Homo sapiens: one gene and its partners. The protein of the gene in region 7 interacts with the protein of the main gene of each other region in a biochemical or structural test. Each region holds a gene or a part of one and is shown on either strand. Other genes may lie near its edges.

Region 1 (2,661 bases), on a different chromosome or scaffold from region 7:
TCGGAGATCCGAATCAGGATCTCTGAGCCTGCAAATCACAAGCCCCTCAAAGTGATTCTCTGAACCCCCAAAGACCTCTGGACTCCTCTAACCTCCCAGCCCTCAGATACCCTCCAAAGACCCCTCCATGACGTCTTCAAACTCTGACTTCTAAACTTGAGACTTCCCCAAGTCTCCAGCAACTGTAAGTGTGACTTCTGAACCTTCTTGCCCTAAGAACCTCTCCATATCCATAAGACCCTTCTCAATCTCAGTGACTCTAAGTCTCTATACTACACATTACCTGTCAGCCCGCAGAATGATCCCTGCCTGTGACTTCTGAACTGCCCATTAGCTCCCAACGCATGCATTAAACCCTCAAAGAGGCTGGGACCCACTCCCTCCATGCATACTCCCAAATGCCTGAGTCATGATGGCTTCTGGTCCATTCTGCACCCCCAAGTGCTGACCCAGAGCTCCACCCCTCCAGCCTCACCTCCACCTTCTCCACCACCTGCTTGCCAAAAGAGCAGACCTTGGAGGAACAGGTGAGGGTCATGTGTTCCAGGCTCTCATACTGGCTGCTCACTCCGTAGAAGCCACCACTGCTGATGCTGCCACCGGCCCCTGCCTCCTCACCACTTGGGCCCCAGTTCAGGTCCGCCTGGGAGATGGGAAGGCACAGATGAGTCAGAGGGGACATCCCTTATAAACAGTGGGGACTACCAGGCGCAGTGGTTCACACCTGTAATCCCAGTACTTTGGGAGGCCGAGGCGGGCGGATCACCTGAGGTTGGGAGTTCAAGACCAGCCTGACCAACATGGAGAAACCCCATCTCTACTAAAAATACAAAATTAGCCGGGCGTGGTGGTGCATGCTTGTAATCCCAGCTACTGGGACACTGACGCAGGAGAATCACTTGAACCCGGGAGGCAGAGGTTGCGGTGAGCCGAGATCATACCATTGCACTCCAGCCTGAGCAACGAGAGCGAAACTCCATCTTAAAAAAAAAAAAAACACAGTGGGGACTCTGCCCCATAGCCTACCATTACCCCTGCAGTTCCCGGCTTGATTCTTCAGTGTTGTTTTGTTTTTTTGTTGTTTGTTTGTCTTTTTTTTTGGGGGGGGGGGAACAGGGTCTTGCTCCGTCACCCAGGCAATGTGTGGTGGTACAATCACAGCTCACTGCAGCCTCGACCTCCTGAGCTCAAGTGATCCTCCCATCTCAGCCTCCTGAGTAGCTAGGACCACAGGTGCATGCCACCACATCCAGCTAATATTTTGTATTTTTTGTAGAAACAGGGTTTCACCATGTTGCCCAGGCTGGTCTCCAACTCCTGGGCTCAAGCGATCCTCCCACCTTGGCCTCCGAAAGTGCTGGGATTACAGGCATGAGCCACCGCGTCAGGCTTTCAAAGTTCTCCAAGGGCTGGTTTCTGGAGAAGATCCACCGTCCATCAGCGTTGAAGAAGTCTGGGTCCCCAAAACAGTCTTGGCCCTGTCTCCCCAGTAACCAAAGGAGCCCTGGAATTCAATTTCAACCTTTTTTCTTTTCTTTTTTTTTTTTCTGAGATGAAGTCTCGCTCTTGTTGCCCAGTGCAATGCCGCGATCTTGACTCACTGCAACCTCTGCCTCCCGGGTTCAAGCGATTCTCCTGCCTCAGCCTCCCAAGTGGCTGGGATTACAGGCGCACGCCACCATGTCTGGCTAATTTTTGTATTTTTAGTAGAGACAGGGTTTTGTCATGTTGGCCAGGTTGGTCTCAAACTCCTGAACTCAGGTGATCCACCCACCTAGGCCTCCCAAAGTGCTGAGATTACAGGCATGAGCCACTGTGTCCAGCCAATTCAACCTTTTTCCCTTGAAGCCCGCAACTCAAGAGTTCAGCCCCTTCCAAGGGCCTGGTTACTATGGCAGTTACTTCTTAGCAACCAGTTCAAGATGAATACCTCCCTCTAAGCCCCTCTCACTCTGGTTGCTAAGGCAAGTGGCTACTCCCTAGCAACGGGACCTCACGGAGCCTGAGGAGGCCTGACTCCTCCTCAGAGCACTTCCCCCTCGGCCAAATCTGAGAGGTCAGACTCCCTCCATGACCCCAGTGGCCAAGTGTGTGTAGACAGCTGGCCAAGTGTCACTAGGCCAAGTGGGGCCTAAGGAAGCCTAAGAGCTCATCACACCTTTGGTCTGAGTCACCTCCTTGCGAGGCGCACCTCTTCCTCTTCCTAACTTTAGTTGCTAACACTGTGCCAGGTCCGTCTTCTCAGGGGCCCGACTCCATCTCTCACCGTGGCAAAACCAAAGACCTTACCAGCTGCTCCTCTGAACCCCTTCAGCAGCTGGGCTTCCTAAGGGGGTGGCTCTCCAGTCCTGGGACCTGATAAGGCCTGTCTTAAGCCCCAACAATGTCTAAGCCCTCAGCTGCACATCCCCAGAGCAGTTTCAGGCTTCTGCTTCACATGGCAGAAAGCTCCAGAACCGTGAACAGCAAGCTCCAGAACAACAACACTCCCAGCAAGAACAGTAAAGTTCAGGCCCTCAGCAGGCCTTTCCTTCCTTTCCTTCCTTCCTTCCTTCTTTCTTTCCTTCTTTCTTTTCTTTCCTTTCTTTCCTTCTTCCTTTCTTCCTTTCTTTCTTTCGGCAGGGTCTCATTCTGTCACCCAGGCTGGAGGGCAGTGGCACA
Region 2 (3,500 bases), 9.4 Mb from region 7:
TTACCTCATATGGGCATCAAGCACCTACTAGATGTTGGGTGCTAAAGTAGATAAGGCAATAAATAGCTCCTAGACTTTTGATTGTGGACCAGTTAAATTTCTTTTAAACTGTGGGGTATTGGGACCCAGGATTGTCAACTTTTTGTATTGCCCAAGTAAGTATGTTAGCCTACCATGTATCATCATTTTATAAAAGGATATTATAGTACTAAGAAAGGAGGATGGCCTTGACTTCAGAATGAAGAACAGTTCTTCCAAAGAAAGGTACATGGCAACCTTACATCAATATATCTGTTATATAGCCCTTATTTTGCTCATTCAGTCATAATCCAGAGAAAACTTTGCCATAGACTGGCTTTGGTCTGTGACCTACTATTTGAAAACCACTGGCTGGGTGCGGTAGCTCATGCCTGTAATCCCAGCACTTTGGAAGGCTAAGGTGGGCGGATCATGAGGTCAGGAGTTTGAGACCAGCCTGGCCAACATAGTGGAACCCCGTCTCTACTAAAAATACAAAAACTTAGCTGGGCATGGTGGCGGGAGCCTGTAATCCCAGCTACGTGGGAGGCTGAGGCAGGAGAATCGCTTGAAGCCGGGAGGCGGAAGTTGCAGTGAGCCAAGATGCCGCCACTGCACTCCAGCCGGGGCAACAGTGCAAGACTGTATCTCAAAAAAAAAAGAAAGAAAGAAAGAAAGAAAGAAAGAAAAAAACCGACTAAAATGGGCCAGGTGTGACCCATTGTCCTGGCTTGTCTTGGGTAACTGGGACTATAGGTGTAACCACTATAGAGAGGAAATTCACAGGTCTACAGTCCCCATTCCAAATAATACTAAACTCTACAAGCTCACGCCTGTAATTCCAGCACTTTGGGAGGCCAAGGCAGGCGGATCACTTGAGGCCAGGAGTTCAAGACCAGCCTGGCCAAAATGATGAAGCTTCGTCTCTAATAAAAATACAAAAATTAGCCAGGCATTGTGGCACATGCCTGTAATCCCAGCTGCTCGGGAGGCTGAGGTAGGAGAATCGCTTGAACCTGGGAGGTGGAGGCTGCAGTGAGCCAAGATCGTGCCACTGCACTCTAGGCTGAGAGACAGACTAAGACTCCATCTCAAAAAAAAAAGAAAAAACCACTGAAATGGACTAGGGGGCAGTGGCTTGCGCCTGTAATCCTAGTACTTTGGGAGGCCAAGGTGGGAGGATTGCTTGAGGCTGGAGTTCAAGACCAGCCTGGGCAACATAGCAAGACCCTCTGTCTATGAAAAATTTAAGAATTAGGTGCACATAGTAGTTGCACCTATAGTCCCAGCTACTCAAGAAACTGAGGATAGAGGATTGCTCGAACCCAGGAGTTCAAGGCTGCGATGAGCTAGGATCACACCACTGCACTCCAGCCTGGGCGACAGAGCCAGATCCTGTCTCAAAAACAACAACAGCAACAAATGCTAATTGCTTCTCATGATTTTGTGGGTTGGTTGGGTGGTTCTGGGCTTGGCTGGATGAGCTAGGGTGGCCTCACTTACATTTCTGGGGCTTCAGCTGGGATGGCCACCATGCTGGAAGCCTTCCTCTGTGAGGCTCATACTCTATAGCAGACAAGCCAGGACAATGGTGAGGGGTTCTCAGCAGCAAAGAAGGAAAGACAAGCCCTTCTCAAGTCTCTGTTTGCTATATATATGTTAATGTCCCGTTGGCCAAAGCAGGTCACATGGCCAAGCACAGTCTTAAGGGTGGAGAAGTAGGTTCCATCTTTTGATGGGATCTTGGTAGAATCCCACCTGCAAAACCACATTGCAGAGGGGTGCATGGACAAGGATGAGAGGGAATTTTTACAATAAACATGAGATGATTGTAAAAATGGAATGCAGGAGATAGATGTAAAAGTGTTAGGAAGTGGCCGGGCGTGGTGGCTCACGCCTGTAATCCCAGCACTTTGGGCGGCTGAGGCGGGTGGATCACGAGGTCAGGAGTTCAAGACCAGCCTGGCCAAGATGGTGAAACCCCATCTCTACTAAAAATACAAAAAAAATTAGCCAGGGGTGGTGGCACGCACTTGTAATCCCAGCTACTCCGGAGGCTGAGGCAGAGAATTGCTTAAAAAACCTGGAGGGGCAGAGGTTGCAGTGAGCTGAGATGGCGTCACTGCACTCCAGCCTGGGCGACAGAGCGAGACTGTCTCAAAAAAAAAAAAAAAAAAAAAAAAAAAAGTTAGGAAAATTAGAAGTGATCTCCACTTATTTTTTTAATTATTATTTAATTAATTAATTTATTTATTTTTTGAGACGGAGTCTCGCTCTGTCGCCCAGGCTGGAGTGCAGTGGCGCCATCTCGGCTCACTGCAAGCTCTGCCTCCTGGGTTCACACCATTCTCCTGCCTCAGCCTCCCGAGTAGCTGGGACTACAGGCGCCCACCACCACGCCCGGCTAATTTTTTGTATTTTTAGTAGAGACGGGGTTTCACCGTGTTAGCTGGGATGGTCTTGATCTCCTGACCTCATGATCCGCCTGCCTCGGCCGCCCAAAGTGCTGGGATTACAGGTGTGAGCCACCGCACCCAGCCCTGTGATCTCCACTTAGAAGGAGCAATTCATGCTTCTCAGCCTACTGTAGGGAAAAATGTTATTATTTATTATTATTATTTTTTTAAATGGAGTTTCACTCTTGTTGCCCAGTCTGGAGTACAGTGACGTGATCTCTGCTCACTGCAACCTCCACCTCCCAGGTTCAAGTGATTCTTCTGCCTCAGCCTCCTAAGTAGCTGGGACTAAAGGTGTGCACTGCCACACCCGGCTAATTTTGTATTTTTAGTAGAGATGGGGTTTCACCATGTTGGTCAGGCTGGTCTCGAACTCCTGACCTCAAATGATCCACCTGCCTCGGCCTCCCAAAGTTTTGGGATTACAGGTGTGAGCCACCACACCCGACCGGGAAAAATGTTATTAAAGAAAGCAGTCTTGTGCTATACGCTCTGAGTTTGCTTATGTCTCTATCCTCATGAAACCTGTTGTTCTCATGAGCAGAGTCCATGGGAGTTAAGCCTGAGAGTTTAGGGGGCTATTTTTGCAGCACATTTACCAGCTCCCCAAATAAAATTTTGATGCTCTTCATGTTTTCAAGTTTGAAAAGATCCAAAAGCTGACTGGGGCTCCTCACACGCCTGTTCCTGCACCGGACTTCCTGTTTGAAATTGAGTACTTTGACCCAGCCAACGCCAAATTTTATGAGACCAAAGGAGAACGAGACCTAATCTATGCATTTCATGGTAGCCGCCTAGAAAACTTCCATTCCATTATCCACAATGGCCTGCACTGCCATCTGAACAAGGTGGGGCCTAAGGGACACCCTGCTGATGTGGGGAAGCAGGGATGGAGGTGGGAGAGTGGGGAGGGGGAGATTCAGAACCCTAGGAGTTTGCAGGTGGGGTCGGGTAGGTTTACTAACGCCTTCTCACTCAAAATGTGGTCTGCACACCAGCAGTGGCAGCATCACCTGGAGACCTAAG
Region 3 (3,500 bases), on a different chromosome or scaffold from region 7:
CTGTTAAATAATAGAAATTGTATAAAATATGCTATAAAGAGGACTAACATTAGGCATTACACTAAATAATGTACTTTCACTTAATCCACAAAACCTCAGACAGCTATTATCCATTTTACCGACGAGGAAATTGTTACCAAAAATGGAGTGAAGAGAAGGAATACCCCATAAAATACGGATTATCAAGGACCAACGATTTTCAGTGGTTTCCATATCTCCTAAGTCTAAATCAAATTTACCTTTCTTTTAAATAGAAACGGGGCCTTGCTATGATGCCCAGGCTGGTCTTGAACACCTGGGCTTCAAGAGATCCTCCCACCTCAGCCTCCCAAAGTGCTGGGATTACAGGTATGTGTCACCACTCCTGGCCAAAGTTACTTCCATATAAAATTTACAAAGAAGGAATACTTTTTTTCTCATTAAGTTTTCATATGAATCAAGCAAAATCAGAGTTTTTATTTCTAGAAGGTTATCATATCATTATTTCGGATAGTCCATTTATATCTGAGGCGCATCCCATTATAATTTTATGCAACTTGAATTTCAAATTATCACCAATGGACCAGGTGCAGTGGTTCACACCTGTAATCCCAGCACTTTGGGAGGCTGAAGCAGGAGGATCACTTCTGCCCAGGACTTCATGACCAGTCTAGGCAACAAAGCGAGACCCTCATCTCTACAAAAAATTTTTTAAATTAGCCAGGCACAGTGACATAAGCCTGTAGACCCAGTTACTCGAGGCTGACGCAGGAGGATCATTTGAGTCTGGGAGATAGAGGCTGCAGTGAGCCCGGGCAACAAAGCAAGACCCTATTCCAAATATATATATCTCGCTCTCTTACCAAACATTGTCTATCGCCATACCATCCTGAAAGCACCCCATCTCATCAAATATCACCAAAGAAAGACCTTATTGTGATTCTTTAAATCATCCAAAATCTACCCAAATAAGTTTTTTTCAGGTCCAAAGTAAAATTTAAATGAAAAAATGCAGTGAATTTTCTTATGACGCAAACAATATTTTCTTTCAAAACTGAGCTTTAGAATAACACTGCATCCTTCCTTTCTTAAAAACAGTGAGATTAAATGATAGTGATAAGAAGTTATAACTAGTTTTGTTTTTATTTTATGTTCCTTCTTGAGAGAAAAACCAAGGTGGTCATCTTCTCCTTAAAAAAAAAAAAAAAAAAAAAAAGAAAGTTCTGTGAAATTCCAGCATTTGGGAATGACTGCGACTGCATTAAACGAGTATCTGCATAAAGCACTGCAGTTGGAGAGATTTTCATTTTGAACCTTAGCCAAGATATGCAAAGCTAATTATGGAACTGTTAATTACTAAATGTTTAAAGGGTTATTTGAAGGCGACTAAGGTTCTATCAATATTGCAAGGAATGTTAATATTTTTATCATAAATTTAATTCCTCATTTGTTCAAAGTCACATACCAATAGAGTTTGAAGCTAATATTTCAGTTATAAATGTATTTCTGTACCAAGAAATTCAAATGTCATTGTTATGAAATCTAACTGCTTGTGGCCAATCATTTCTTTATGAGACATGCTTTTTAAATGGCATACAGATAGTTTAGTTGTATTCTATGAACAAAAACTATTTAAGAAACAAATATTACTAGAGCCCCAAAATGGGCTAAAATATAATGAGAGTATAAGCTGACAAATATGAGTCTGCTTATAAGCAATGGTAAAAAGAAACTCAAATGGAAAATTTAACTATAACAGACACAATTCTTCCATTAGATTTGAAAGTTAAATATTTGTCAGAGATATTCTTTCATGCCGTTTCTCATAATTTACAGTTCTCTGAGCTAAAGTTACTTTTTTCAGCCCTCTCATTATGACTCACGATGAATTCTACCAAGTACTTAGCAATGAATTAAGTCCTGTATTCTTTATAACACATCAATGAGTTAGTACTTATATCAAAAGTTGTAATAGCCCAAAAAAAAGTAAGATTATTAAATAGGAGGAGATGGGGTGGGGGTTATTTTACACATAACATTTTTAACAGTAACTTTTACAACTAGCTAAAAATGCATTACATTAGGTCTTTAAAGAGAAGAAACAGTTTTGCAATAGATGTTTCACCTGAAAAACTGAAAATGGTATGCATTTAGACACTCTACAGAAGCAATTTCAAAGGGCCTGAACTCAACAAGTTAACAAAATGGTTTAGAAAAACCATTTTATTGTATAAGCCTTGGGGGATAAAAGCTGTTTGTAATTTATTTACATCTTTTACTTCACCAAATTGCCTTGGTGACCAAGCTTCTCATTTAAGTGATTAAAGACATAAACCCAAATGGTTAAATAAAGCAATTACTTAAGAGTCCTGTTTTTCAACAGAGGTGCACTGAAAAATATCAGTAGAATGTTTTCAGGGCTCATTATTTTCAAGGAAGTTTGTTATTTAGAATACAATGCCCCATTGACTAGAACTCAGCCAGGTTTCCAGACACACAATATGGGACACACATTGGATTAGAGTTTTCCTCCTCCTCTCACAATATCAGGTGAAATAGTGATAGTCTCTTGAAACTGAGTATGTATAACCTGGCTAAAACTTAGATGATAATTTTTTTGGTATTTCTCCTTACTATTCCCCCTCTCTAAAGATATAACTGAAATGCGTTTCCATTGTGCAGGTGGACATGAAAAGCTCCCAATTTATGAAAGTTCCTGGTACTCTTCCCACCCCTAGATTCTCTTCTAGCCAACTTCTTAGGTTACACCAATGACATCAGGATTACTTCTAGGCAATTGATTGACCTAAATACAAAACTATGTTTTCACGGAGCTTGGGAAATGAATGAGGCCAGCAAGCCTTTAAAAAACAAACAGAAATGAACAGCAGGAAAAAAAATTACATATGTTCCCCAATTCTTTTCCTTTTGCCTATAACGAGAATCATGCAAACTCCTTTATCGAGTCTATCCTCAGAAACAGAAGGAAGCAAAACAGCAAAACTTTCCTAATTCCTGTCCTTCTGTTCATGATATCAAGCTTATTTAACATGGTTGCTTTTCTAATATTATAAAATTCGAACTCACAAACATTTATAAGACAAGGCTGTATGGAAAATCTTCCAGCGTTCCATTAACAAAGCATTCTTAACATAAAAAGTACCTTCTACAAAAACTTTTTTTTTTATAATTTTTGAGTAAATTTCAAATTTTTATAAGATTACTCCTGGCCAGTCAGGTAAAGATGGAAAACGTTCACATTTCGAACAACTTTCTCTTGAAAAGAAATAAACGTGGGGATTTGTAGTAATAACCAAACGAACATCAAAGTTAATAGGGCTGACACTTAGGAATGTTTGAAATGTTTGGTAGGTTTCCTTATGTTTACTTTTTCTATGAAGGTTTGGTAGGGCAAATGGGCTGCCTTCCGACTGTCAATAAAGCTTTCATGTCGTGGGTTAGTAGTAGCTGGCCCAGGCCAAGTTCTGTGTTGGGTCAGTTTTTACTCTATTCTACACAAC
Region 4 (3,500 bases), on a different chromosome or scaffold from region 7:
TTTTCATTAATTTTGGCAGGTTCTTATGACTCAGAATTTAGTAGGTAATAAAATCCTCGAAAAGCAAGGGGTAGTGTGGAGGTCAAGTAAAGGGAGATATTTGATTACAAGGTTTGTTGGAAATAGTCTGAGGTTGTTGTGGTTTTATGTTTTGTTTTGTTTTTTTGTTTGCCTAGTGATTTTTTTAAAGTTAATTTTGTTGGCTTGGCTTTGTTTTGTCTTGAAGGAGAGGTACAATGTAAATCTTGGCCATTGTGGGTAGGGCAGTCCTCTACTTTTGCTGGAAGGAAGCCACTCCTGCTCTTGGTTTATGTGTTGGCATCAAGCTGAGTTCTACTTTAACTTGTGAGGCCCTTGGCTCTGCTCTCACGGCCAGGCCTTGTGTAACCTTAGGGTATATTCATTTTGGACACTCAGGACAGGACTCCTGGACTCCTAAAGGGGCTCACACATCAGGCATTTTCCCCCCATCTTTTAGGAGAGAGTAGGAGAGTAGCTCTAAGGTGTTGGAAATGTATCCCTGTTAAGATACTGAAGAATTAGATTTAAGTTTTCAAAAACTGTCGTTCTATGGTGTGTGTTTAAACCTGTGTTTGAGACCTCACTGGCCAATATTGCAGCTATATACCTCTATTTTTTCATTTTGTTTTTAAGTAAAATGTCTGCTGTTTACTTTTAACTTTTCGTTTTGAAATGATCATAGCTTCATAGGAAGTTGCAAAAATAGTAGAGAGGTCCTGTGTACCCTTCACCCAGTTTCCCCCATTGGTAACATCTTACATAACCATAGTACAGTAGCAGAACCAGGAAATTGACATTGGTACAGTCCACAGAGCATATTCAGATTTCACCAGTTTTACATGCACATGTAAAATTTGTATTTCTATGTGTGTACTTCTATGCATTTTTTCATGTGTAGATTCATGTAACCGCTACCACAATCAAGGTACAGACTATTTTATTACCCCAATGATCTCCCTTATGCTACACCTCTATAGTTGCACTGGCCCTCTTCTCCCCATCCTCACTCTGTTGCTAAATGCTTAGCAACCACTACTCCTGTTCACCATATCTATAATTTTATCATTTTGAGAATGTTACATAAATACAATCATGTAGTATGTGAGCTTTTGAGATTGGCTTTTCACTCAGCATAATGCCATGGGGATCCATCCAAATTTTTGCATCTCTCAATAGTTTGTTTCTTTTCATTGCTGAGTAGTATTCCATAATATGGATGTACTATGGTTTGTTTAACCATTCACCTATGGGTTTTTTCCAGTTCATGACTATTTCACATAAAGTTTTTATGAACATTTATATATAGGTGTTTGTGTGAACATAAGTTTTCATTTCTCTGGCGTAAATGCCCATGATTGTGATTGCTGGATTGTATGGTAAGTGTGTGTTTAGTTTTTTAAGAAATTGCCAAACTTTTCCAGAGTGGCTGCACCACTCCTATTAGCAATGTATGAGAGATCCAGTTTCTCTGCAACCTCACTAGCATTTGATGTTATCACTATTTTTTATTTTAGTTGTCCTAATAGGTGTTCTAGTAGGTGCTCTAATCTTACCATGGTTTTAATTTGCATTACCCTAATGGCTGATTATGTTTAATGTCTGTCTTTTTTATGTGCTTATTTGCTATCCATATATCCTCTTTGGCGAAATAACTATTCATGCCTTTTGCCCATTCCCTAACTGGATTATTTATTTTACTTTAGAGCTTTAAGAGTTCTTTATATATTCTAGATGCAAGTCCTTAGTCAGATTTGTGGCTTGCACATATATTTTCCCAAGTATGTAGCATGTCTTTTTATGTCCTTACCAAGGTCTTTTGCAGATCAAAAGTTTTTTATTTTGATAAAGTCCAGTTGATAGATTCCTTTTTTCTTTAAGGATGGTGCATTTAGTGTCACATCTAAGAACATTTTGCCTAGACCCATGTCTCAGACATTTTCTGCTGTGTTTTCTTCTAAAAGTTTTATAGTTTTACATTTTATTTTTAAGTTATAGTTCACTTTTGTCTGTCTTAAGAGTTTGTATGTCTTGCTGCTGAGCTTATAAACCATCTATTAGGTCTCGAATATGCACAGATGGACTATCAGGTGTAGTTCCCATTCTGAAGTGCTCACAGATTAGGGGTGTGGCATGTGGACATTACCATGTGTTACTACTATGATGGGGACACATGTGATGTACTGTGGGTGCTCTGAGGAGAGAGGGCTCACTTTGGTCCAGGCGGTCAGGGAGGGCTTCCCTGGGCATGCTGCCCAACCATGGTGGGAATAAAATTGGTTTGCTTTTGATCCAGTTTTTAGATCTTTATTGCCATGAATTCTTTAGAGTGTGTTACTCTGATTCTTGAGCACATGCTGATTGAGTTGGCATAAACTGAGTGGTTGAGGACCTTTTTGAACAGTACATGGCATGATAGCTTAAAAGAAGGTGAAAACACAGTACTTAAAACTCAGTAACATAAACAGTATGAATGAAGTTGAATAGATTAAGAGTTATGTATATGTTAAAATGAAAAAGGAGAGGTAGTATTTTGGATTGAGAACAGGTGTATCCTGGCCCTGCCGCCTCCTTGCTGTGTGACCTCGGAATTGTACATGCTGAAGCCTCATGAGTAAAATGGGGAAAATAATAGTTCTTCCCTCATGGAGCTGCATGAGGGCAAAGTGAAGCAATGCGCACAATGCTGGGCACGTTGAAAGCATTCAATAAATACCTGCTACCATTATTATTACTAAAACAGCAGAGAAGCAAAACACTTTATAATGTTACGTAAATTCGCATGTATCCGTCTTCTTTGAGAACCTGGAACCCCTGTTCTTACTCATGGAAGTGTTCCTTTTCACAGTTGGGAGCGCTGTGAATACTACTTAGTGAATGAGATAGAAGCTAGGATGCCCTATTCACAATCTATTACTATCTATAAAATAAACCTTTCTTTGCTTCTATAAAAGTATGATTTCTGATGAAAGAATGATTTCCTCTGTGCCCTTGAGCACAGGAGGCAGGAGGAGGTGGGTCTGCATTCAGAAGGCTAGTTCAGAGTTTATGGTGCTTGGTACTGTAGGTGCAGTAAGTCAGGGCTGATGTCACCAGGCCGTGTCTCAAATTTCATAACTGGCAGCTCTGTTTCCTTCTTGATGACCAAGTTGTTTACTTCTCAGAGGAAATTAATTGGGTCTTAGATGTACAATTCCAGGACAGTTGTTCTCAAATGTGATTGAGCATCAGAATACCCCAGAGGGTTTATTGAAACATGGATTGCTGGGCCGCACCCCTAGAGTTTCTGTTTCCTTGGTTGATTGAGGATAGGGCCTAAGACTTTGCATTTCTAACACGTTTCCAAGCAATGCTGATGCTGCTGGTACTGGAAACACATGTTAAGAATGACCATTTTAAAACATAGCCCCTTTAAATTGGGCCTGGACTGAGATGCTTACCCTTTGGAATGGAGTTTGTTCATCTATAAGTAATTGAGTTTG
Region 5 (3,030 bases), on a different chromosome or scaffold from region 7:
CCCCCTTGTCCGCCTCCAGTAACCACTATTCTACTCTCCACCTCTGTGGGATCAACTTTTTTAGTTTCTGCACAGGAGTGAGAACATGTATTTATCTTTCTGTGCCTGGCTTATTTCACTTCACATCATGTCCTCCAGTCTCATCCATGTTGCCACCAAGAATGACAGAATTTCATTATTTTTTATGGCTGAGTAGTATTTCATTGTTTGTTTACTGCACGTTTTATCTAGGGAATGTGTGTTTTTTTAAAAAATGGAGACAGCTGTCCTAATATGAGTCAACTGCCAAGGGCTTTCAATTATGTCTACTAGAGTTGTTAAATTGGCAGATTCTAGAAAATATTGGAGGTTTACATACAGTATTTAGACAGAATAGCTTCCTAGCTTATGCACCACACTGGTGCTAACTTTGGCAAAGAAAGCAGCAAAGACAGAGTAATGTTGGCAAGCAAATCCATCGTTATGCATTATTAAGTATTGTTCATTAGGCTGCAAAGGGTGAGGGAATCACAGTAATAACCACTTTCTGTTTTCTGCTGCACTGTATCAGCTCATGGAACATCTTACTTTGCCTCTGCACACAGAACGAACACAATCTGTGGCTTGTCCTGTCTCAAGCCTGAAGGCACGGCACCGCCTCAGTTCCTGATCCCACAGTTTAACCGCTCCTCCTTCTTTTGACCTAAGTAAATAACCAAGCCAGAGTAAGTGTTCATTATTGGCTACTATAATTTTTATTATAAACAAATACCAAGTTATAAGCAGAATCTTTTTTTTTTAAAAAGGCCCTGATATTTATAATTTACCTCTAATATTCTTGTAAACTTTCTATGGCAATTTGAGGATATACTATATCTCAGTCAAAATAAACATCCAGTTTCAGTGAATTTTATTTTGAGAAATACTCTTTTTTTCTGACATGAGCATAATTTTATTTAGCCTCTACAATACATTACAATACATTATCCTCTCTCATAATACTTTTTTTTTTTTTTTTAAGATGTAGTCTCGCTCTGTCTCCCAGGCTTGAGTGCAGTGGCATGATCTAGGCTTATTGCAACCTCTGCCTCCCAGGTTCAAGCGATTCTCCTACCTCAGCCTCCCGAGTAGCTAGCATTACAGGTGTGCACCACCACACCCAGCTAATTTCTGTATTTTTAGTAGAGATGGGGTTTCACCATGTTGGCCAGGCTGGTCTCAAATACCTTGACCTCAGGTGATCTGCCTGCCTCGGCCTCCCAAAGTGCTGGGATTCCAGGTATGAGCCACTGTGCCTGGCCTCATAATACTTCTTGATTAGGAAGATGTAAAAAAACAATTTTATTAAAAGGATAATGGAAATGTAAGGCAAAATAATAGAATTACAAATGCTATGCTACAGAGTTGATTTATTTATTTTTTTGAGACAGAGTGTCGCTCTGTCACCTGGCCTGGAGTGCAGTGGTGTGATCTCGGCTCACTGCAACCTGTGCCTCCCAGGTTCAAGCGATTCTTCTCCTTCAGCCTCCCAAGTAGCTGGGATTACAGGCACCATGCCTGGCTAATTTTTGTATTTTTAGTAGAGATGGAGTTTCACCATATTGGCCAGGCTGATCCCAAACTCCTGACCTCGTGATCCGCCCACCTCGGCCTCCCAAAGTGTTGGGATTACAGGCGTGAGCCACTGCAACTGGCCCAGAGCTTATTTTTGAAGGCCAAAACAGAAGCATATTTATTCCCTATCAGGTGTTAAAATATCTCACTGGAACAGTTTAGCAGGCTTCTAGTGAGTGGGGGTGTGCAGGAGTAAATGACGTGGGAAATACAAGTGTTGGAGGACGAAATAGAGCCCATTTATGGATTTTATTCCTGGAAGGGCTGAAAAATGTATTCCTTCCTTTTCTGCTAGATGAATTGCTTGTCTGAAAGCATGCCTATGTGCATTCTTCCTTTATGTAAAAGGCACAAATTCTGCGCTTGTGTTTAATTAACATATGTGGGTTCTTTCAATCCTGTATTGAAATGTACTTCTTAGTCAACTATATGTCACATTTTTTTTTGTTTTTGTTTTTGTTTTTTAAATGGGGTCTCACTCTGTCACCCAGGCTGGAGTGCAGTGGCACCATCACAGCTCACTAAAGCCTTGACCTCCCCAGGCTCAAGTGATCCTCCCACCTCAGCCTCCTGAGTAGCAGGGACTACAGGCATGTGCCACCACACCCGGCTAATTGTTGTTTTTTATAGCGATGGGGTTTCACCATGTTGCCCAGGCTGGTCTTGAACTCCTGGGCTCAAGCGATCCACCTGCCTCAGCCTCCCAAAGTGATAAGATTACAGGTGTGAGCCACTGTGCCTGGCCTACATGTCATGTTTCAACATGCATATGACTATGTTGGTGACAAATCAAATCATAAGTATCTGGTTACTGTTGGGAGATTTGAAAATCACTCAGAAGAGACCTCTTCTCAAATTTTGAGGTCTTGTATAAAACAGTTTAAATTTGCCTCAAGCAAAAGGAAACAAGGCAGTTCTCTCTAGTTCCCTCATCCTTTTCTAAAGCAACAATGTGCATTCTACTCCTTAGAATCCATTCTGAACAAAAAGAGAGCAGGCAGTCAAAATACAACCCTGGCTCCAGATTCCCCCATGGGCCTCCTACTCAGCAAATCATACACAGGCATACAGACATTAAGAAAAGTAACTCAACTTGTAGGACAACTACCTATCCACACCTCAGAAAAAGTATCACCCCAACATGAAAAAAATTGGAAGTGAATTAAGACCAGAAATGAGAATCAAATAGAAGGCACATAAAAGGTAATAAAGGAGAAGCATATGAGGAGGAAGGTCGGAGAGGACACTCTGTGTAGCCTAGAAACAACTAGAATAATTAACTGCAAACCTCAGGTAGGTCACAAATGCATAAATATTCTGTGAAAAGAAAGAGGACTCACGGCCTTTCCTTTCCCCCAGTCACGATAAGTCCATCTCGCAGGGTGGTGTACATGGCAAACACAGGCCCGTTGTGAGCTCTCGCCACGATTCTACACA
Region 6 (3,500 bases), on a different chromosome or scaffold from region 7:
ATTTTCCAGCATCATTTTGAGAGAGAAAGAAAGAGAGAGAGTATGTGTTTAGTGGCTTAATCATCCCTCCCTTATCTTGTCCTCATTCCATCTACCTCTCCAGGGTTGGTTTCTTATGGAGCCAGTAAAAAAGAGGAGAGAAAAATCAAATCAGCGTAGATCAGGGGCCACATCCTCAAAGGCAATAAAGAATTGATGGAGCTTGTGCTGAACTTGAACTTTAAGTTAAGGGCCCCATCTAAAGGAACAGCAATTACTCAGCTCCAGCTAAATTTTGCCATGTAGAAATGTGGATCAAGTATCAGCAGGTCTTCTGACTTTTTTAAAGAAGCCAGAAACACAAAAAATTTTATTTGAAATTTTCTGAACTTTGAAACATAGTATAAGCCAAACAAGACGTGCCTCAGGCTGGATTTAACTGGATCAGGCTCAGAAGCAGCCTGTTTTTAACCCTTGGTAATTAGATATGTGATGATAATTTTAACAATGGATTTTCAAAGTACAACCTATAAAGTTTGATGGTAGAGGTTGTTGTGCGGGGTGTTTTTGTTTTTGTTCTACCAAACAAGCAAACAAAAAGCCTAAAAGTAGAATGTGCTAGATTCCAAAAAGTTACATTTCACCTTTACCATTGGACCTTTCCCTCCCAGACTGTAAGCAAATAGAAAATGTGGATAATGTTATTAAAGCAACTCTTGCCTTTTAAAAATAACAGGAAAAAGATTTGGGGGCAATCGTGGCAACACTATTGAGCATCATCTTATACCAGCACAATTGATTCTGACTTGTTCCTTTGCTGTATTTCAGCTGTATAACATGCTCGTGGAGACGGGGGAGCTGGAGAATACTTACATCATTTACACCGCCGACCATGGTTACCATATTGGGCAGTTTGGACTGGTCAAGGGGAAATCCATGCCATATGACTTTGATATTCGTGTGCCTTTTTTTATTCGTGGTCCAAGTGTAGAACCAGGATCAATGTACGTATTTCTCTGTTTGCAACATTCAACTGTCGTACCTCAAGTGTGTCTAAGATAATTCAATTACCAGTCTCAGTATCTGGTTTCCTTTCATCCAAAACAAAAAAGGATGTGTGTAGGCTGGTTAATTTCGAAGATGAAAACCTTTTCCTCCCTGCCACATCTTAAATTAGCTCAAGTATACTACTTAAAGAGAAAGGAAAAATAAGTGTATCAATGACTAATTCTCTCAAATTGACTGGAATCTATGTCTTTTTGGTCTGTGTGCACAGACAGGATGTGATCTTCTGGGATATCACCCTTCTTTGAATCAGAGATACGCTGTCATTTAAAAAAAAAACCTGACACCATCCTTTTAGTGTTTAACTTTTAAAAATTATTCCGAAAGAAATGTTTTTAAAAGATAAATTTTGAAAAGCTGGCTTTTCTTTTAAAGGAAAAAGAGCTAAAGGACTAGGCTGCTATTTCTGTCACTGTAGGCAGGTCACTGCTTCTCTTTGCATCTCTATTTTCCCATCATGAAATGGCCTTGCCTATTTTCCCATCATAAAATGGCCTTGTCAATCATCTCAGGATGTTTTGAATAAAATGGGATTGCATCCATGAAAGAATTATGGAAAGACTAAAAGAAAAAGTGGAAGTAGAATCCAGAAGCTGGAATGGCCCTTGAAAAGCATCTAGCCTGGACCCCTGATGTAACAGTGAAGCTAGGCAGACAGCGTCAGTGCCCCTCTCAGATCCCTGATTCTGGAAGTGGTGGCAGTGGGGCCCAGAGCCCAGATGTTCTGAATCTCCCCCGAGTACCACATGTGCTGCTGCATCATACTACATCCTGGAGAGAGGGCAATTGAAGTAAGAAAGGTTTCTTTGAAGAATGTTATTGTGCTTCCTAAGATTATTAGAAACACCCTGAGAATTGTCAGATCTATATCTAGAAGGCTTTATGTTTTAAGGACTAGATAGCATAGATTGAATTCAACTGTAAAAACTGTACATCCTTTTTTAAAATATTGATTTTAAAGCTCTTGTTCAACGGAAAAGTTATGGACTATTGGGTTTTAAGCAAAAGTATGCTTGCTGCAAAAACCATGTATCAGGCTGCATCTTGCCTGGTGATGTGGTCAGAATACAGGGGTGCAGGCATCTCTCCAGCCTGACCCTGGCAAGAGTCAGTTAATCTTGCTCAGTGCCATTGCTGTGATCACACACCCACCCTTGCCACACAACTACCCATGCCTAGGAGACCAGATGAGAGGGTGAGAAGAGTTGAAGGCCAATGAGTCACTGCTGTAGAAAAAGCAGCCCTAAGTGCCACCTTCCCCTGGCATTGGATCTCAGCCATCACCGTGTGCCCCTTTACAGAGTCCCACAGATCGTTCTCAACATTGACTTGGCCCCCACGATCCTGGATATTGCTGGGCTCGACACACCTCCTGATGTGGACGGCAAGTCTGTCCTCAAACTTCTGGACCCAGAAAAGCCAGGTAACAGGTGTGTCATTGTTCCTCCTCTCAGCCAGCCCCAAATACACTGAGCTCCAGCTGGTGCCCAGAGCCAGCCAGCAGCTGAAGACATGGAGGCAGAATATGCCTTGCCCACAAGGATCACCCCAAGCTGAGCATTTCTCAGCTGCTTGTGAATAGCATATTGATGGAGATGCACTCATGGTCTGTGGGAAGTGAGAGGTGTTTCTTTAAATAAGCTGTTAGCACAGATCCATTTGGAAAAACGTCCAGATGCCAAAAGTAAATATTATCATTTTGCTTTCAGGTTTCGAACAAACAAGAAGGCCAAAATTTGGCGTGATACATTCCTAGTGGAAAGAGGGTAATTATTGGTTCCTGGGGTGCTTCTGGGAACCAGTCCTAGTGGGCAGCTTTCCCTGCTGAGTATTTTTTTTCTCCTTATTTTTGTTTACTAAGCATGCAGATTTCGTAAACCTAGTCACAAGATTGAATGGTTTGCTGCTTATTCTGTAGTGGTCAATAGAGTAATAATTGCTGGATCAGAATTGTAAAGAATAACCCTCAAGTTGGTTAATTGGTACAAAAACACAGTTAGATAGAAGTTATAGAATTTGATAGTATAGTTGGGACATTATCGTTAACAATAATTTATGTATATCTTAAAATAGCTAGAAGTGAAGAATTGCAAAGTTCCCAACACAAGGAAAAGATAAATGAGATGATGAATATCCCAATTATCTTGATTTGATCATTACACATTGTAGACTGGTATCCATATATCACACGTACCCCCAAAATATGTATAATTGTGATATATCAATTTTTAAAATACCAAAAAAGCAAGAGAATGACGACTCCACATCCCCCAAAAAGAATAAATTCTCATAAGCTTGGACCAAAGCCTTTATCATGGGTGTAGATTTACTGTTGCATTTCTCAGTGCTGGTTTCTAATCAGACCAGTGGATTGAGTTTCTCTACCATCCTCCCCACGTTCTTCTCTAAGCTGCCTCCAAGCCTCACCCGGCACCCTTCTTCCTACTTCCTACTTC
Region 7 (3,500 bases):
CCTCTCGGGTTCAAGTGATTCTCCTGCCTCAGCCTCCCGAATAACTGGGATTTACAGGCATGCGCCACCACACCTGGCTAATTTTGTATTTTTAGTAGAGATGGGGTTTCTCCATGTTGGTCAGGCTGGTCTCAAACTCCCTACTTCAAGTGATCTGCCCGCCTCGGCCTCCCAAAGTGCTGGAATTATAGGCCTGAGCCACCGCACCTGGCCTATTTTTTTTTTTAATCATAATACAGTTTTGTTGGAATCTTGGCAAATTTATAGATTAACTTGGGAAGAATTGACACCTTTGTGAGACTGAGTCTTCCCAGCCAAGAACAGACTATGTCTTTCCCTTATTTAGGTCTTCTTTTGTGTCCTTTTGGGAGCATTTTAAAGTTTTCTTCACCAGTTTATTTCAGTTTCTAATGCTTTCCTAACCAATCAGTATTTAATAGAATCTTTGACCTACTGCCTTTTCTTTTGTGAGGTTTCTCATATAAAAGCATTAACTCTTGCTACTCTTTTCTATCAATTCCTTACTTTAACTGCCCTAAGGCTTTATGTTAATTTTGCCCCTTGTTAATCTCTGAGAAACCAAACTTCTCAGTGCATTTTTTAAAAATCTTTCTTTGGCTGTTTTATGACTTGATAAAATGCCTTGCCTTGGTCCAGAGGAGAAAGAGAGAAATCAGACAAGGGAATGAGAATGACTTTTCCATCACTAGAGAGTTCACTGTAGCAGTTATTTCTAAATCATTTGCCTTCCCCATCTTGCCCCTTTGTATATTTGACCTTTATCAAATGATTTTTTCCATGTGTCAGATAGTTATTGATTTCTACCGTAAGCAAGGTGCTTTCTCTGTAGGAAAGACAATGACCAATAAGAAATAATCCTTGCCCTTCATTCAGTTGATAATTTAGAGAACAGCCTAAGATTACACTAGTAGTTTAAACTATACTTCTCAATTTCTCAGTACTTTCCAACTTTCCGTGGTTGTTTATTTAAACGATTTTTTGTCCTTTTTTTCTATTAGATTTTTTAAAATTTTATTTTTGATTGACAATAATTGTATATATTTATGGAGGACAATGTGATGTTTTGATATATACTTACAATGCAAAATGATTAAATCAGGCTAATTAATCTCATTAAATCACCTCACATACTTTTATTACTTTTTTGTTATGAAAATTTTAAATAGATTTGTTTTAAAGTTCTGTTTTATTGTTGTTTTGAGATGGGATCTGGTTCTGTCACCCAGGAAGAACCTGGTGGAAACTTTACAGGCTTGTGCCTTTAAAGTTTTTTTTGAAAAATTTTTAGACAATTTTAAACAAAATTTAAATGGTTATCATTTTTGCAAAAAGAGTCTTCATTATCATAAAGTATTTACATTATGGTCTTAAAAGTTGAGGATTGTTTATTCTGTCTATGCATAATTTCTAAAACTTGATATAATAAATCTCTTTTTAAATTTCCTTTAGCATATAATTTAGAAAGTTAAAAAAATCATGCGTAAACTTAATTGCTGCCATCCTGTTTTTCAGCCTGGCTGGGTTGTTTTGGACCAACCAGATGCTGCTTGCCATTTGCAGCAACAACAAGAACCTTCTCCTCTACCTCCAGGGTGGGAAGAGAGGCAGGATATCCTTGGAAGGACCTATTATGTAAACCATGAATCTAGAAGAACACAGTGGAAAAGACCAACCCCTCAGTATGTGCTGATGGCTTTCACAATTTTAATCTGGAAACACTTTAACTACGAATTTTCATTTTGAAGTCATGTCTCAGATGGATTCATAACAGTATAGTGATCCATAAACTATAAGAATACTAGGATTTTTATTGCCCAGGACTTTAAAAATCCTAACTCTGCTGTTTCGTTTTTTAAATGACTTGATAATATTCAAAATTACTTGACTCTAGATACTACCCTTTTAATTGCGTCTTAATTTTAATAGGTTTTTAATTTTATGTAGCCACAAATGGTAGATTTTTATTTTTAGGCTGAATTAGAAGTCTTGGAGAATTCTTGTAGTTTGTTATTAAAATGTAATAAAATGTTAATTTCTATAGTACTCTATTTTTAAAATATAAATTATTTGTAAAATATAAAGGACTCAATAATAAGGGTATTACGTTAAACGCGCATTTGACAGTCTGGTCAATGTCCACATAACTTCCAGCACGCACAGATCAAGGACGGAATGACTTTCAACATATTCTAACTTCTGTCTCCTCAGTGATTTTTTTTATTATTAGACTGTATATACATTTATAAAATCTCCCATTATTCATATTTATTCTCAAATCCCCTTCCATTTTTCCTTCCATATAGTCTTATAAAGTCTTCCTTTAGTCTTCTGTTTGAAACATACTCGTAATTTTTTAATGTGTTCATTAGCCTCCTAATTTTTGGCTATGATATTTTGTGCCTGATATATGCCAAGCACTTTTACAGATATTTTCTGTTCTCAAATCCTTCCAAAACAAATCAGCAATTCAAGTACTTCATGGCACAGAAGCTTCAGTCTTCATAGAGTGACGTACAGACTGCAAAGCTGAAGACACTATAAAATTCTGTAGAATTGCGCTGTTGCATACCTCAGTATTATGGCAAGCCTTACATGAGCAAAATCACAGTTCTTTCACTGTGGCTGATGTCATTTTCAGGTAGCCAAAATCATATATTTAGGGGGAAAAAAACTGAAGCATTCCCTTAGAGCCATGTATCAAAATTATGTTTTCTTTAGCTACGGTACAGTAAGAACTGGTCTTCTGACTAGCCTGAGCTCATGTCGCATTAAATAAACAGTAATTTTATTATTAAATATTTGAACAAAATTCTTGATCTGATAGACTGGTTATATTAAATGCAAATAATTAGAATAATATAAATGACTGGGGTAAGGGTGTTCAATCTGATTTTTTTTAATTTTAATTTCTGTGGGTCCCTAGTAGGTATATATGTTTGTGGGGTACATGAGAGGTTTTGATACAGGCATGCAAGGCATAATAATCACATCATGTAAAATGGGGTATCCATCCTCACAAGCCTTTATCCTTTTTGTTACAAACAATCCAATTATAGTCTTCTGGTTGTTTTTAAATGTACAATTAAATTATTATTGACTGTAGTCACCTGTTAAGCTATTAAATACTAGGTCTTATTCATTCTTTCTGTTTTTTTTAATACTCATTAACCGTCCAATCTGATTTATTGTACCTCTCCTAAGCTCAGACAAATCTTTACTATTACCTTTTTCAGGACAGGCCCATGACTGTATATTACGAAAAACAGATACCATTACTAATAGATATGTAATTCCTAAACCATTAAGCTTTTCATTATAAAGTTCTTACACCATCTTTCATTCTGCCCTTCACATTCATGCATGGAGTACTCTACTCCTGGCTTAAGACCAATTCTAGAAAATGTACTATCTGATTCACAAAGATGTATGTATGTGTAACTCTATTACTCTTATAATAACATGGCAAAATAATACAATGA

Evidence for each region.
Region 1: the proteins of NEDD4 (region 7) and TEAD2 form a complex in vitro, tested with the Homo sapiens proteins (one large-scale study listed by BioGRID).
Region 2: the proteins of NEDD4 (region 7) and PARP16 form a complex in vitro, tested with the Homo sapiens proteins (one large-scale study listed by BioGRID).
Region 3: the proteins of NEDD4 (region 7) and RAPGEF2 form a complex in vitro, tested with the Homo sapiens proteins (2 studies listed by BioGRID and IntAct).
Region 4: the proteins of NEDD4 (region 7) and AMOTL1 form a complex in vitro, tested with the Homo sapiens proteins (one study listed by BioGRID).
Region 5: the proteins of NEDD4 (region 7) and ZC3H14 interact in a test that uses a peptide from one of them, tested with the Homo sapiens proteins (one large-scale study listed by BioGRID).
Region 6: the proteins of NEDD4 (region 7) and SULF1 form a complex in vitro, tested with the Homo sapiens proteins (one large-scale study listed by BioGRID).

Annotation. Positions count from the first base shown.
Region 1 is NC_000019.10:49,342,756-49,345,416, forward strand, and holds part of TEAD2 (transcriptional enhancer factor TEF-4), read right to left. Parts: intron 644-2,661; coding exon 476-643; intron 1-475. UniProt on the Homo sapiens protein: Transcription factor which plays a key role in the Hippo signaling pathway, a pathway involved in organ size control and tumor suppression by restricting proliferation and promoting apoptosis.
Region 2 is NC_000015.10:65,266,384-65,269,883, reverse strand, and holds part of PARP16 (protein mono-ADP-ribosyltransferase PARP16), read left to right. Parts: intron 1-3,115; coding exon 3,116-3,322; intron 3,323-3,500. UniProt on the Homo sapiens protein: Intracellular mono-ADP-ribosyltransferase that plays a role in different processes, such as protein translation and unfolded protein response (UPR), through the mono-ADP-ribosylation of proteins involved in those processes.
Region 3 is NC_000004.12:159,106,079-159,109,578, reverse strand, and holds part of RAPGEF2 (rap guanine nucleotide exchange factor 2), read right to left. Parts: intron 1-3,500. UniProt on the Homo sapiens protein: Functions as a guanine nucleotide exchange factor (GEF), which activates Rap and Ras family of small GTPases by exchanging bound GDP for free GTP in a cAMP-dependent manner.
Region 4 is NC_000011.10:94,771,356-94,774,855, forward strand, and holds part of AMOTL1 (angiomotin-like protein 1), read left to right. Parts: intron 1-3,500. UniProt on the Homo sapiens protein: Inhibits the Wnt/beta-catenin signaling pathway, probably by recruiting CTNNB1 to recycling endosomes and hence preventing its translocation to the nucleus.
Region 5 is NC_000014.9:88,622,037-88,625,066, forward strand, and holds part of ZC3H14 (zinc finger CCCH domain-containing protein 14), read left to right. Parts: 3' UTR 1-567; coding exon of another isoform or gene 568-682; 3' UTR 683-2,933; coding exon of another isoform or gene 2,934-3,030. Other genes in the region: EML5 (echinoderm microtubule-associated protein-like 5), read right to left, coding at 568-682, 2,934-3,030. UniProt on the Homo sapiens protein: RNA-binding protein involved in the biogenesis of circular RNAs (circRNAs), which are produced by back-splicing circularization of pre-mRNAs.
Region 6 is NC_000008.11:69,600,847-69,604,346, forward strand, and holds part of SULF1 (extracellular sulfatase Sulf-1 isoform 1 precursor), read left to right. Parts: intron 1-807; coding exon 808-983; intron 984-2,345; coding exon 2,346-2,474; intron 2,475-2,753; coding exon 2,754-2,810; coding exon of another isoform or gene 2,811-2,814; exon of another isoform or gene 2,815-3,349; intron 3,350-3,500. UniProt on the Homo sapiens protein: Exhibits arylsulfatase activity and highly specific endoglucosamine-6-sulfatase activity. It can remove sulfate from the C-6 position of glucosamine within specific subregions of intact heparin.
Region 7 is NC_000015.10:55,861,113-55,864,612, reverse strand, and holds part of NEDD4 (E3 ubiquitin-protein ligase NEDD4), read left to right. Parts: intron 1-1,533; coding exon 1,534-1,700; intron 1,701-3,500. UniProt on the Homo sapiens protein: E3 ubiquitin-protein ligase which accepts ubiquitin from an E2 ubiquitin-conjugating enzyme in the form of a thioester and then directly transfers the ubiquitin to targeted substrates. Specifically ubiquitinates 'Lys-63' in target proteins.